Regions from separate parts of the Homo sapiens genome. Here region 2 is linked to region 1. A link means that fine-mapping ties the variant in region 1 to the expression of a gene that starts in the linked region. Tissue or cell type: whole blood. Region 1 holds a variant in brackets; the other region holds the start of a gene. All regions are shown on one strand. Distances are between the middles of the regions.

The links. PIP is the estimated chance that this variant, and not a neighbour inherited with it, causes the effect.
Region 2: CYB5R4 starts here. The variant in region 1 is fine-mapped to the expression of CYB5R4 in whole blood (INTERVAL, PIP above 0.99).

The regions. Positions count from the first base shown.
Region 1 is chr6:84,221,882-84,229,988 of GRCh38, forward strand. It overlaps CEP162 (centrosomal protein 162), which reads right to left and starts at 5,762. Exons shown (of 27, transcript NM_014895.4): 1 at 5,699-5,762; 2 at 4,456-4,571. The coding sequence starts at 4,512. RefSeq lists enhancers at 5,175-5,675, 5,676-6,176, 6,078-6,237. The variant T/G (reference allele first, on the strand shown) is at 4,168.
Region 2 is chr6:83,856,516-83,864,622 of GRCh38, forward strand. CYB5R4 (cytochrome b5 reductase 4) reads left to right here and starts at 3,174. Exons shown (of 16, transcript NM_016230.4): 1 at 3,174-3,342; 2 at 7,660-7,813. The coding sequence starts at 3,268. RIPPLY2 (ripply transcriptional repressor 2) reads left to right here. Exons shown (of 4, transcript NM_001009994.3): 4 at 727-1,000. The coding sequence ends at 874. RIPPLY2-CYB5R4 (RIPPLY2-CYB5R4 readthrough) reads left to right here. Exons shown (of 18, transcript NR_174604.1): 4 at 7,660-7,813. RefSeq lists a silencer at 3,245-3,294.

The sequences.
Region 1 (8,107 bases):
AGGTTCTTCCTTCCTTGGTTATCCCATTTGATATCTGTATCTTCACTCCCTTCTCTCTCTACTCCCCGCCCTTCCCTCTGATTATACACCTGCTCAGCACTGCATCTCCAGTGCCTAGCATAGTACCAGGCACAATTGCGGAATGAAAAAATGAGCATTCTACTCAACTTTGAAAAAAAAAAAGTAGAACAAAACAAAAAAATTCCTTATCCCTACGTCCCTTTTACTCTATCACATTTCCTTGATATACCAACTCCTTGAGTTCACTTAACCCCTTATAATCTGGTTCCCAACCAAAACAGCTCTCCTCCAGGCACCAAAGGCCTCCGAAATGCCACAAATAAAGTACCACTGTCAGTTATCCTCCCTGATCACATCATGGAATTTGCTACTGGTGATCAACTCTTAAACTCTTACTTCTTGAAACTCTCTACCTTGACTTTAGTAGCATCACTTCCTCCGGGTTATTCTTCAGATCTGTGGCTACTCCCCTCCATCTATTTTAATAGCTTTGGCTTTTTGCCCATTTATTTAACAGACTTTTCCAGGACTCTGCTCTTGATCCTTTTTCAATCTCATTCTACATTACTTTTTCTGGAAAAGAAACCAACATTTACTACATGCCTGCTCTATGTCAGGATCTACACTCAGGTTAACTCACTTAATCTTTAAACTACCCTGCAGAAATTTACTCATGGTGAAACTGAAGCTCTAAGAGGCTAAGCAACTTGCTTAAGTTGCTACTGTTAGTAAGTGTTACAAAGTCACATTTAAACCCATGTCTGACTAACTCCTGTCCACTTTCCACTATACTATGTAGTTCCCCAACTAGAATATTGTTATCTGAGTGACCTTTTAAACTTCTAAAATGACAGGGCGCACACGCGCGTGCACACACACACACACACACAATCTTCCACTTGCCAAACAAAAAACTCTACCTCAGTGACTTGAAGAATGTCAATTTAAAAATGTTCAAGAAGAACTTAACTGTCTTCACTAACAAACAGGTAGGAAGACAGGAGGAGGGAAGAAAAAATATTCCTTAAACCATCTGAATTTCTGAAATTAGTTAGCTGCATCACTTTTTACTTACTCTCTAAACTTCAGTATCACCTTGAGGTGTTCCATTTCTCTTTCCTCCCATTTTTTCAATTTATCTGTAACATAGGCATGGTACTACTGACCTTGTAGGGCCATGACAAAGAAGAAAAAAAGAAATGAAGACTTCTAATACATGATAAGTGTTCTTACTTTAAACAACCTTCCACAGTGCTTCCCAGCACTTTCATTAATTATTTTTAATGAATATGATTCATTAAAAATAAAACAAAACAGGCCGGGCGTGGTGGCTCACACCTGTAATCCCAGCACTTTGGGAAGCCGAGGTGGGCGGATCACGAGGTCAGGAGTTTGAGACCAGCCTGACCAACATGGTGAAACCATGTCTCTACTAAAAATACAAAAATTAGCTGGGCGTGGTGGCGCATGCCTGTAATCCCAGCTACTCAGGAGGCTGACGCAGGAGAATCACTTGAACCCGGGAGGCAGAGGTTGCAGTGAGCCAAGATTGCGTCACTGCACTCCAGCCTGGGTGACAGAGCAAGGCTCTATCTCAAAAATAAATAAATAAATAAATAAATAAATAAAAATAAAAATAAAATAAATAGAAATAAAACAACAAAAAGGCTGATTCTCAGATACAACAGTTGTTGGCAAGGATATGGAGAAACTGGAACTCTAGGCTGGGTGTGGTGGCTCACACCTGTAATCCCAGCACTTTGAGAGGCCGAGGCAGGCGGATCACTTGAGGTCAGGTGTTTCGGACCAGACTGGCCAACATGGTGAAACCCCATTTCTACTAAAAGCATAAAAATTAGCTGGGCGTGGTGGCAGGCGCCTGTAATCTCAGCAATTTAGGAGGCTGAGGCATAGGAATTGCTTAAGCCCAGAAGGCAGAGTTGCAGTCAGCCAAGATTGCACCACAGCACTCCAGCCTGGGCAACAGAGCAAGACTCAGTCTCAAGAAAAAAAAAAAAGAAATTGGAACTCTGATAAACTAATACACTACTAGTGGAAATGTAAAATAACACAGTCATTTTAGAAAATAGGCAAACACACAGCTACCATATGATACAGCAATTTCACTCTTTGGCATATACACAAGAGGAACAAAAACACATCCACACAAAAACTTGTACATGATTGTTCATGGCAGCATTGTTTGTAACTGCCAAAAAGTGGAAAGAACCCAGATGTCCGTCAACTGACAGGTGGAAAAACAAAATGTGGTACATCTACACAATGAAATATTACTTATCCATAAAAAGAAATGAAGTGTTAATACATACTACGACATGGATGAACCTTGAAAACATCATGCTAAGTACAAGAAACCAGACCCAAAGGGCCCCATAATATATAATACAATTTCTATGAAATGTCTGTAACAGGCAAACATTTAGAGACAGAAGTCAGCTTAGTAGTTGCCTAAGGCTAGGGAAGGGGGAACAAGGAGATGGAGTAACTGCTAACAGATATGGGATTTCTTTCTGGGGTGATAAAAATTCCTATAATTGATTGTGGTGATGGTTACATAACTCTGAAACCACAGAACTGCACATTTAAAATGGGTGAATTAAATGGTATGTGAATTATGTCTCAATAAAGCTATTTTTAAAAAGCTGGTTACCACTACTGTCCTAAAAAATAAAGATATATAAACTATGTCTTTGAATAAATTGTTTGAACAATAATTTATCAAAGTGAGAAAAGTTAGCATGACTCTAAAATCATGACTTTCACAGTAAAAAAAAAATGACACATTGCAACTGAGGATGGATATAAGAGGAAGAGAGACACAGACAGAAGGGTGGGGGAAGGAGAGTGTTGGAGAATGTGTGTGCTGGAAGGGTGGTAAATGAGGGAAGAATAAAAACATCTTCTAAAAGGCCTGTTCTGCTATCTTTTACAATAAAAATCATTCCTATAAATTTAATTTTCAAAATGTGTCTGTATTTGAAATTTTAAAAAATCAACTTTTCAAATGGTAAATGAAACTTATTCCAAGTGCCTATTACATCTTGACAATTGGTAGATGCTTTTTTAAATCCTTAAAACAATTCTACAAAGAAGGCATTATTTTTCCATGAGACGGATAATGAAGTTTTTTTGTACTACATTAAACTCCCTTTTTTAACAAGAATGTATAACGTATAATAGCTTAAAATGTGACTCTCTTGAATGCTCTACAAGGCCCCTCCATTTATATAAATAGAGTTTTATGCATCGCTTAATTATGGGGATATGTTCTGAGAAATGGGATTTCATCATAGGAGCATCATAGAGTATATTTACACAAACCTAGATGGCTCCATGGTATAGCCTACTCCACACCTAGGCTATATGGTATAGCTTATTGCTCCTAGGTTACAAAGCTGTTCAGCATGTACTGTACTGAATCCTGCAGGCAACTGTAACACAATGGCAAGCATTTCTGTATCTAAACATAGAAAAGTAAACATATGGTACAAAAGATTAAAAAGATACACCTTTATAGGGCAGCCCCATTATAATCTTACGGAACCATTGTTGTATATGTGGTCTGTTGCTGACCAAACCATCTTTATGAGGTGCATGACTGTACACAGAACGTGGTATAACCATTTAATATACTCATTCAAATATTTATTAAGTATTTATTAGGTACTGTAGACATAGTAGTGAACATGTTGATATATAATAGCAATGAACGTAGAGTCATCACATTACAGACCATACATTCTTATAATGGGAAGCAGAAAACAGACCCATACAAGAAAAATAATTAATGTGCTAAGTGCTATAAAAAGAATTAAATACATACCAGATTAAGAAGTGACTTTGTGTTTACCTTTTACTGGATAAACAGAAGAAGCCTCTCTGAAGTGGTGATATTTAAGTTAAGATTTTCACCAGCCAGGTAAAGAGTAAGGGAGGAGCATTATTGGCAGAGGGAACAGTGAGTGCAAAGCTCCTAAGGTGAAATGAGCTTGCAATGTCTGGGAAAGAAAAAAGGCCACTGTGGAATAAATAAAGTGGGTGAAAGAGGGATATGAAGGCAGTGAGATATGTAAGAGTGAAATCATGAAAGGCTTTAAAACCATGGTAAGGAGGAGTTGTTTGTTT[T/G]TTTTTTTCTACATGTGATGGGAGACCAATAGAGTCTTTTACTGGGGAGGAACAGAGTCTGACTGCAGTGTGGTGAAAGGAATGCTGGACCATGAGTTGAGAACTGCTGCCATAGCCCAGTTGAGATGATGGCACTGAACTAGCAGTGGCAGAAAAGGGACAGGGCTAGAGGGATGATGGGAATTCAGAGTTTGGTGATGGACTAACTGTATCTTCGAGATGACAGAATTGAAGGATGAGTCTTTTGAGACAAATTTGACAATATAGCTTTTAAAAATATAAACTTACCTCTTTCATAAACTGTTCAAACTCTTCATCTAGCTCTTCTTGGGAACAGTTAGCCATAGTCAACAATTTTGACCTCCCAAAGTAAACATTCTAAAGTACCTCAAACATTGGAAACACTAAATGACAAGAGACATAAACATCTTTTGAGGAAATCCATCAGATCATGAACACGACCAGACTTAAACTTCGGACATTTGTTATGATTCAGTATATATGCACAATTTTTTTTAACCAGTAAGAGCTGGTCAAGAGATTCCTAATTCATTAAGCAAACTGATTTGGAAAAGCAGCTTTGACAGGATGTCTTGTACTCAACGTTCAGAATTATGTTTTCATCTGTTAACATCCAATTGTTAAAGAGTGGTCTCTACAATATTTCCCAAACCTATGTTTGTGTGCATGTGTTAATTAGTACCTCTCAAACACAAACCAGGTCCTCACAGGGAATCTTAAAAACTGTAAGTTAGCAAATCCAAAGGACTGTTTCTTTCTTGCAAAGCACACGACAGTTTGTGCTGCCTTATCACTCGGCTCGTTATTTTACCAATCCATAGTAATAGTTTCGTAAAGCAGACTGCATAGTTTCGTAAAGCAGACTGTATCCAGATACGGGGATGTTTCAAAATATACACAAATAGAATTTAGTAAGAATTAGTAATTTAGTCAAAATACTTAAAGAATACTTAAAGTTAATGGAGTACACAAATCAGTACTATGTTTCTTTTGAAGCGAGGGAAGACCGACAAAAATTATGTGCTGAACACAAGCAGAATCCAGTGATTTGCAACGGAAAGCGTTCCCCTAGACACCTAATGAACCCAACCTTGGGTCGACCCCCAGCTCCTGAACTCCCTAGAGCAGCTCAAATCCCAGCTTTCTTCTGTAGAGATGGGGGAGGGGAAGAGGGCTTGCAGACCCGGACAATACCCTCCCCATCGTGCAGAGTAACACCTCTTCCCCTCATTTGCACTTTCGATCAGTTCAGGGTAAGTGCGGTTAAGGTCTTGGCCTGAATAGCTTGGTCAGGGGTGAGCTCCACTAAAAGCTTCTCAAGCCTGGCTGCGACCCCGTCCCCAGAAGCGCGGGTTCGGGAATTGGAGGGAAGACAAAGACGCATTTGCCGTGGGCTCCGGGCGGAGAAGGGGAATGACCTGGAAAATTAAAGCCCTTCGCTCGAGTATGAAGCACGGCCTCGACCAGGGCGATTTGGGTGGGAAACCAGCGTTCACACCTTACCACCTACCTCTGCCTCTGAATTCCGCGCTTTCCCGGAAGGTCTGTGCGGGTCCACCAGTTGTCAGGGTAACAGACTTCAGCTGCCGGGTTCTGGAGTCACATGACCCGGGCTGGTCACGTGGGCCGTGGGTTTCCCAATGCCTTTACAAGCGAAGGTCGGAATAACCACGGCTGAGAAAGACACTCTAGTGGCTAAACCTTCGCTGCTGCAGTAAAATGCCTTTCCTTCCCTGGCTTTCTCTACGTTCCTTAGAAAAGGGGACAGCGGCAAACCGGTTACTGGAGAAGCGAGACGGAGGCTTCCAGCAGGCTTGGAGGGCGCGGTGGTTGTAGGCCAGCCCGTGGCTTTCTGGGAAATGTAGTTTAGCTCCCCTGGTCCTTGTGTTTCCGCACTCCGCATCGTCGCCTCCCGCCTTCCCCACACTTGTCATTCGAGCGCTCTGTTTTTCCAAGGGGCAATTTTGAAGAGATTGAATTTCTTGGATTTCTTTGGCCTGCAAAGACCTGTGTAGGCATTGTGAGAGAAACACAAACCTGTGAGGAAAAAAACTGTCGTTTAGATGGGGACTCTGTTCCACCACCTAGTGGGCAAGAAATCGAAAATACGCAAACAGCAAGATTCTTATTAAGTTATTGCTCCTCCCGCTACCCCTACTTTTCAAAACTGCATTCTTTACTGGCATTTCACAATTACTGACTTGGATTTTGTTTTCTATTTCTTTTCTTTTTTTCAAAGCATGCAACATTAGCTGGAGTTTCAGAGGACAACATTTAGCATAGTGTAAGTAAAATCTACAACAGCTGCAGGTTTTGCTGATGGTAGACTTAGTTCAGGACCTCATCTTTAGCTAGAACTGTTTATTCATCAAGTCTTTCTTGCAATACAAATATGTACAAACCAGGAGCTGTGGACTATGATGCAAATATGAATAATAAAAGAAATATCTTAAGCTACCATTTATTGAGAAGTTGACTTCCTGCCACCTTCTATCAAAGACTTACCTTCCCACATATGATCTAGAGCCTTTACCCATTCTTCTTCTCACTGATCTTGTTCCACTGGTCATTTCCCTTAATCCTGTATCTTCGACTTCTGGCTGGCTGTGGGATTTTTCCTAACAGCATTTGAACATGCCTTGAGATCCCCACCTAAAACATCACTTCTGACACATTCTCTTCATGCTATTATTTCCCAGTGGTTGAAATGATCTGTCTCCTCACCTTACTTGCCAATCTTTTCTGAGGAATTATTTCCACTTTACCTCCCTTTTGTCAGACCTTTTAATCCTGTCTCTGTGTGTGTAAGTGTACATATATGACAGCGCTTTATTTGATCTCCCAATACTATTTGATACACTTGTCTCCTCTCTTTCTTGGTTTTTCTTTCACATTTATAGCCTCCCCTCAAGGGTTTTCACTGTCTCTGTCTATCCTAGCTGACCTCTAAATGTTAGAATTTCTTTTCTTTTCTTCTTTTTCTTTTTTTCTTTTCTTTCTTTCTTTTTTTTTAATTTCTATTTTTTTGAGACGGAGTCTTGCTCTGTCACCCAGGCTGGAGTACAATAGTGCGATCTCGGCTCACTGCAACCTCCACCTCCTGGGTTCAACTGATTCTCCTGCCTCAGCCTCCCGAGTAACTGGGATTACAGGTGCCCACCACCACACCTGGCTAATTTTGTGTTTTTAGTAGAGACAGAGTTTCACCATGTTAGTCAGGCTAGTCTTGAACTCCTGATCTGCCCACCTTGGCCTCCCAAAGTGTTGGGATTACAGGTGTGAGCCACCGCGCCTGGCCAATGTTAGAATTTCTTAGGGCTTATTTCTGGACTCTTATTCTGTCACACTTCATGGTACTTCCATACACCTACTCATTCAAGACAGAAATCTGGGAGTTCCCTCTCTCCCATATTTTATTCGTCAAGACTTGTTGGTGCTACCTCCAAAATGTGTCTCTATTCTGTTCATTTTACATCTTAATTACTAATGATAGAGGCATCTTTTCCTCTTGTCTGAGCTGCTTCATTAGCCTTCTAACAAGTTTCTCTATTTCTACTCCTATCCTCGTCTAACCCATTGTCTACACAATAGAAAATGTGATAATTTGAAAATGTAAATCAGGTTACTCCATTGCTGAAAATCCTACAATGATTTCTCTCTGTATTTGTACTAAAATCCAAATATCTACAAGGACTTGCATGGTATGGTCGGCACTATTCTCTTCTACAGCCTCCTCTCACCCCCACTCACCAAGGCATGCAGAATTATTTGCAGCTCTGGTACAGAGTTCAGTCCTATTGAGGTTAGAATTGGAGCTTTGGTATAAGGAGTGGAAGATGAATGTTACTGTGTCTAAAGAGTGAATAATCATTTTGTCTCTATGCGTAAACCTACAAAACTTATGCTTATAGGATCCAAG
Region 2 (8,107 bases), 370 kb before region 1:
TGAAATTCTGAGGTAATAATACTTACATGCCAGTTATTTGTATAAAACATATATAATTTCTCAACATTTCATATGATATTCACAAATTTAGTTGAATGGGGAGAAGACAGGCACATAGAATCAAAGTTGAGGTCAGAAGTAGTCTTTCTATGCCTCAAGTTGTGAGTGCATAGACAAAAATTTTAAAATACTGGTTTTTATACATTTTTAAACTTACGTTGTCTACTTCTATAAGAGTTAAATCTGTGAGTTTTAAATAAGATAATAGGTTATTTCCACCTTTTTGTAAGGTGCATAATATTTTGTCATCTTTATAAAGCTGGCTATCATTAAAGTTTTTAATGTAGTGGTAGAACTCAATTCATTTTTTCCAAAGGAATTTAGAAACTGGAAGACAAATCTTCTATATATTATAAGAATAAATATATCCATAATGTACAAAGTAAGGTAAACATTGATCTTATGCATATCCAGGGTTTAGTGTAAATTTGTTTGATCCAATTTACAGCTTGAATAAAGATTTACAATAATCAAACAATTATTGATACTTGGGCAGGTAGATTCCATGAAGGCTGTGATAGTAGCATATTTTAACTCTGTATCTTAAGGCTATATCCAAATGTATAAGTCAATTGTTAAATATATGGAGCTCTTGAAATTTGACCATTTCATGAGTTTAAAGATCCTGAATGTGAAAAAATAAAACATGTTGTCTGCTTCTTTCAGACTATTTTGGCCAAAATCAAAATGTTATGATTACTTATATCAAGAAGCAGAAGCTCTTCTGAAAAATTTTCCAATTCAAGCCACAATTTCATTTTATGAAGATTCTGATAGCGAAGATGAAATTGAGGATCTGACCTGTGAAAATTAATCTGATTAGCTACTTTTGATTATATCCAAAGCTTGTGGGGTTTAAATTTAGTGTACAAATGTATCATAATTATTTTAAACTAATTTATTTGTATATAAATTATTAATAAAATGAAATATTTTGTAATTATTCTGGTATTTGGCCTTTTCTTTATCCCTACACTAGAATTGAATGTTGGAATCTAAAACAGGTGCCATCTACAAATGTCTTGATTGTATTATAAATATTTGGGGCTTACAAAGAATACATTTTTCTTTTCGTTAAATTGCACATTTATATTTAGTTATAATTTTGCAAAGAATGACAGTATTTAATTCTCAAGACTGAATCTTTTAACATCTGCTATTTCCTACTGATGCCAGTTGGATGTTGTAGTTACATATCAATGTTATCTTATTAGATAATGAAGAAAATAGACTTATGTTAGAAATCACTCATTTATTAGTAAAGATTTCTTAGCAGATGGAGAAAAACACATTAAATCATTACCTGTAATTGAAAAAGGGAATCAATCTTAGGGCTTTTAAATTATAGATATTTTAAATAAATGATGAGCAAAGTAACTCATATTTTAATACTCCTCTTCAGTCCTTAAATCCAGTAGTAAAATAGTATGGATGTTTAATACTTAATGTACTACATTGAGGGATCCCTAGAATTAAAACAAAACGTTTAAATTTGAGTGATTGATATGGAGTCTAAAAAAGTGGAGTCTAAAGGCCAGAAGTTGATAGCATCTTCCATTTCTGTACAAAGGGGAGCTAAGAAATTTGGAAAGCATGGAACATTCTTCAACAATATTAACTTTTCCTTGCTCTGGTTCTCTGCTTTTGATATTCTTATGTAAAAGTTTTCTCACGAGAAGTGAAATAAATCTCAGTGATTAGTTTTTCTTGTGTAGACTCTAGAAGAATATGTCATCATTTAATGAGAGAGAACACAGAAGCAATTTGCAAAGTCAAAGTAATACAGTTAATTATAGTCATGAGGTTCTTTTAGCTCAAATTCAGTCTTCTCATAATAAGCATTTCAATTGCAAATAAAAATGGATAGAGGTGAATGTCATAGGTGGCTACCTTATTTGAATGCTTGTATTTGAATGGCCACATATAGTCACACACTTTTTCTTCTGATTCTGCAAACATAACCTTGATTTTTTAGGCACTTTAAGAACTAAGTAGTTAAACAGAGAAAGTTTAAAGCATGACAATATGTTCAGAGTTAGGAAAAATTAGTAATTAAAGGAGGATGGGGAGGATTATTTAGAACTATGTTTCTTCTCCTGAAAACTTTCTCCCTTATTGGATTCTACTCTCAAGATCTATGTGTTCCCCAAGGGACACACAAAACAATCAATCAAACAAACAAAAACCATCAGATTTTGAGCATTAGAGCCTGGTGTTTACCTGCACAGTGTTGGTCCTTTTCCCATTAATATGTTGGAATAGCACAAACAGCCACTGCCACTTATTCAGTACCTAATATTAATCAGGCACTGCAGTATGTAGTTTACACATGATCCTTTAATCTTTAATAAACCCATTATGCAGATGGGGAAAATGAGACTTTGAGATACTAAAGTAACTTGCATAAGACAGCTCAGTCATTAAGTGCAGGGATGGCATGCAAACCAAATCTGACTTTTAAACGTTACTTCATCACCACAGCTGGAGGTGAGCTGCATCAGTACACAATTCCCAGTGAAGACAGGAAGTTACATAAGGAGGGAGAATTTGTGAGTGGGTGAATAGAGCAGAAGGTGACTTTACTAACGTCTTTCGCGCATTCATTAGCCCTCAGCATGCTTAAAGGTGAAGTTTAAGGATGATTAAAGGTGAGGTTTTCTTCTTACCCCACAGTAGTGGCTGTTGACATTTGATATTTTTGCTCTTAAAGGTGTGAGATGCTCTTTGCATTACAGCCTAGTGCCTTACAGGAAAGAATTTCAGAGAAACTAAAATTCGTTTTAGTCCATATTTCAAGTAGTGTGTTTTAGTCCATATTTCAAGTAGTGTGATGGTACTGCTTAACAATGAACAGACATTGCTGTTCCGGGTTAACAGGACTAAGAATTTGTTCCCACATTCGGTCAGCACCAAGGCTAAGGAACAGCTTCACTCTCTAATCTTTCCACGAAATAGCTGTCACCTTGCTCCGGTGCTGAAGTTCGGGATGCGGAACTAGCTGAGCATGCGTACTTCCTCCCTGCCGGCCCTCCCTCCGTCCCGTTGGCTCCGCCCTCCGCGGACGTGCTGCGTCAGAATGCGCCTCACCCCTGGCGACCCCGGAAGTGGGTCGGGGGCTTGGCCTCTGCCCGGCCACAGAGCCGGAGCTGGAGGTGCTGTCCCGTCTGGCGGCGATCCCCGGGCAGGGCCCGGGGCCGGGGTTTGAAGATGCTGAACGTCCCTTCCCAGTCTTTCCCGGCCCCCAGGTCGCAGCAGCGTGTCGCCTCCGGGGGGCGTAGCAAGGTAAGCGGGTGGCTCCGTGAGTCTCTCCCCTCGCTGCGTTTCGAGCTCTGGCAGTGTGTTCTCTTCTTCCGCCCCAACTCCCAGCTCCTGCACCCCTCTCTAAGCTGTCGTTCCCTGCTGTCCTTGCCTGCAACCTCTTTCTGATCCCACTTTGTCTACAGTCCCTAAACTCTCCTTACCTCCTCCCTTTCCCCTAGCAGTCCCTCTTCTTTCTGGTCCTTTATCCCGCTCTATCCGTTCCCTTCCTCCAAGTCCTTTCCCGCGATTTAAATTTATATGACAGAGCCAGGCACTGTGTTTGCGGTATTATAGGCTCTCGGTATTAGCCGCCTTCCCTCAACCTCATCTTCTCCCTGGTCTTTTGTTCTTCACTGCCTGAAGGAGTTGTACCACATCACTCGATGTGGGTTCCCTCGCAGGAGGGAAAGGCTTGGCAGTGGCGACAGTGACCGTCCGTGCAAGGATGGGGACTTCTGGAGTTGGGGAGCTAGGTCAGGTTTACAGACACTATCCAAGACATACTGCCTTTCTTTCTTCCTCTGGTACCTGATTGTTTTGTCATTGCCTTTTCTACTAGTATCACTTGCTAACTTCGAAGCAAATATAATAATACTCTTGAGTTCTTGTTGAGCACAGTTGCTGTTAGCAACAGGTGGAATACTGTACAGATATATTTTATATTTGCAGAATTCAATAAAAATTGTGTTCTTTGTTCTTTTGCGAATGTTGTTTGTTCCTATTTGTTAGTTCCTCATTCTGTAACCATATCTTTATCTTTCGTTTGTGACACTTCCACTTAACTTGGGCCACTCGGTTAACTCTTGAGTCTTAGCATCGTTTGGAACCCTTATCGATTTTCTTATTTTTCTCCACTTAGACCTGGCGTTCTGATTCTAGTTCAGAATGAATATAGGTTCAGGGATCTGTGGTTTTCATTAGCTTTCCAGAGATTTCTTAAGTACTTACGGGTGGCCGTGTATATTCTCAGTGCTTTGCATGTATTAACTTTAATTTTCACAATTATCCTTTGAAGTGAAAGCTTTTATTGTCTCTATTTCGCAGAAAAGGAAACTGGCTAAGAAATATTGCCCTAAATTGCGTAGGCTTGTGTTGTGGTTCTGCTGTGAAATTTCATTTACTGATTCATATATCAATCATCTAGCCATCCAATCATGTATATTTTTCTCATTGGTTTTTGACCTATTTCTTGAAGCTAAATACTTGACTGAATAACAGTCTTTCCAGAAAGAATCTCTGAATTAGAATATGAGTTACTGCCCTTCTTCGTTAAAAATACCAACTGTGTTCTTAGCATCCATTTAAAGGAGAAAACTTAGAAGCAAAGACAAAAAGTCACACAGGGGGCGATGGCAAAGGTGAGTTTTTGGTCCAAAAAGAGAACAAAATAAGATTATTGTGCAATTCTAAGGAAAAGTCAGACTCCAGTCTTCTTCCTCTTTTCTTTGTGAAACAAGATGATGCTGAGAATGTAAAAACTGAGTCAGGTTTGGATGAAATGGGTAGAGGTTGAGAAAATAGAACCAAGTTGGGAAGGTCGTGTATTATACAAAAGGTTCTCAAATAGTGTTGTTTCATTCAACAGCATTTAGTTATAATATTGATGAGAAAAAAAATTCGTTTTGGCCAGGGCCACTGTCTTTGGAGTTTGCATGCTCTGTGTCTGCGTGGGTTTTCTCTGGGTACTCTGGTTTCCTGCTACAGCCCAAAGATATGCAAGTTAGGTTAATTGGTGTGTCTAAATGGTCCCAGTCTGTGTGAATATTGGGTGTGTATGAGTGTGCCTTGCCATAGGATGGCATCCTGTCCAAGGTCGGTTCCTGCCTTGTGCCCTGAGCTACTGGGATAGGCTCTGACTACCTGTGACATTGAACTGGAATAGTTGGGTAAATAATTATCTTACTTGTTTTTTAATTAATCTTTCTTAAATGTATATATAGCTAACATTTCTTTCAGTGTTTAATATTAGAAGTATTTTGGTCTTTATTTAGAAGTCTGGTGATGTTTTTGTGACCAGAAATATGCTGCAGGAAATTTTGTTTGTCAATTAACCCACGGTAAAATTAGTTTCGTTGTACATAGTTTAGTTTCCAAGCACCTAGTGACTAGCTTAAGTGAAGGCTTATTGTAATTTTTTAAAGGCACAGATTTTGAAGTGAGAAAGACCTAGATTCTTTCACCATATCTGCCAGTTAATCTCTTTGAGTCTGTTTCCTCAGATGTAAATGAGAATAACAGTACCCATTTTATAGGATTGTTCATAGGATTCAATGAGATAATGTTTCTCTTAGCACAGCCTTGGTAAGCACCCAGTAAATGCTACTTGTCCTGAGGCTTTTATTCAGATCTCACAGACTTGAGTGTGACACAGAATATGCACTCAACATATGATAGTTATTATTTCTATTAATACTGGTAAACAAATACTTATTGAGAACCTACCATATGCTGGAGTTTTTGGTCTCTGATTTCAAGGTGTTTAGTCTCATAGGTTGCATGAAATAGTGAACATTCAGTTATAAAGTCATAAGTACTACAACAGGGTGGTATGACCACTAAGGAGTTGAGGATCAGAGAAGCCTTCCAGAGGAATTAATGGGAGTTGGAGTGAGGTTGATCCATGCAGGGAAAGCAACACTACTATAAGCAAGTACTTGACAGCAATAAAGGAATCAAATAATCAGTTCCCATTTGGCTAAAGTATATAATGGAAAGGAGCAAAAGTTAGAACATGGAGCTAGTACAGTCAACTGTGACCAGATTGTGAAGACCTGGTAAATCCCTAGGGAATTTAGAGACGTTGTTGTAAGGTGACCTGAGGAGCCACTGAAGGAGGGAGAGCCTGTGATTAGATTTGCATTTCTGAAAGATTGCTTTAACTATCCTGTGGATTATGGAATGGAGAGAGGTGAGTGATTTTAGTTTGGGATGGGAAAGGTCATTTTCTCACACTTCATTTATTGGGATCAAGAGACCTAGAGTTTCAGTGATAGCCAGAATGGAATGATGTAGATTGATAGGATAGAATGTGAAAGGCACCACAGACCTATTAACTTGGTTACTTTGGGAGTAAATGGATGTCTAAAATAGATATGATTCAGGAAAGTGAGATATGTAAACATCCTTGAATGTGTCTGCTTTTACATTAAACATTCTTCTGTTACTACGTTACAAATTAGTCAGACAAGCTTAGTTCCATAGAGATATCTTGAAAATGTTCTGGTCAAAGTACTAATAATACTTCTCGTCTGAAAACTTTGAAAATGTGTTTTATAAAACAAAACAAAATAAAAACCCAAACCATCCTGTTACTAAGTTCCCTAGGCAAGGGTTGGCAGTTTTTTTTCTGCAAAGGGCCAGGTGGTGTTTTCGGCTTTGAGAGCCTCATAAGGTTTCAGGCTCTTTACCACCACATGTGAAGACGATTCTTTGCTCAAGGGCTGTATAGAAACAGGTACAGGCCATAGTTTGCCACCCCTTCCCTACAGTGTTACAAGTTTTATTTTCCATTATTTGATAAACTTTGTTACTCAATGGATTCTTAGATAAGATTGCTATCTAATGATTTCTAATAGTCTGTTTATCTTGACAGTCCAGAAAATCAACTATAGTTAATTGTCTCTTTACCTTTTCTTCTGTCAAATCTCTTTGATTTTTAAGGTGAAGAAATTTTGGTCCAAACTGGTTAACTGTAACATATTAATGTCAGAGCCAGGACCAGAACCTCTTTTCTAGTTTCTGGTTCAATACCATTCCTGTTATATGGTCAGCCCTGTGTAGCCCTGGGTTCCGCGTCCAAGGATTCAACCAACTTTAGATCAAAAATATTTGGGGAAAAAAATTAAAAATAACAATACAACAATAAAAAAATAAGAATTATAAAACAATGCAATACAACAACCATTTACATAGCATTTACATTGCTTTAGGTATTATTAGTAATCTAGAGATTATTTAAAGTATATGTGAGAATGTTCATAGGTTATATGTCAGTACTTTGCCATTTTATATGAGACACTTGAGCATCCTGGATTTTGGTATAGGGTAGGGGGAAGTCCTAGGACCAGTCCCCCAGGAATACTGATAGACTACTGTACTGTGACATCAATATGGTGAAAATTTGTGTGGTAGAATTTCTAAGCCCTACCTTTTATAATTCAAATACAGCATAAACAATGTTGACAGCCTCTTAAAACTGTAAAAGGATTTATAGAAGTGTTAGATTTGAGTTTTATTATCTTTTAAAATGGAATTAAAAGTAATGAAGCTAGATTTAATTCTTCCTTTTTCCATTTTTAGGTACCTTTAAAACAGGGCAGAAGCCTTATGGATTGGATTCGACTGACCAAAAGTGGAAAGGATCTAACGGGATTAAAAGGCAGGTTAATTGAAGTAACTGAAGAAGAACTTAAGAAACACAACAAAAAAGATGATTGTTGGATATGCATAAGAGGTAGGTGGTATTTATTAAGTCCTTCAAAAAATGTTGCCTGAACTTTCCAATTATGATGTTACATAACCTCACAGTCATGTTATTTTAAACAATTGACAATTTAACAAAAATATGCCTTGTGCTTGACAATAACTTATATAATTCTGACTTTGGATAGTATTTCTTCCTTAGGTAACCATTATATTCTGATGCAGAAAACAGTGAACTTCTGATACGAAAAAGTTTTTCTTGCTTCCTTGTACTGCATTTCCTTTGAAAGGAAACAAGCATTTGCCAGGCAATATAGTACAAAAT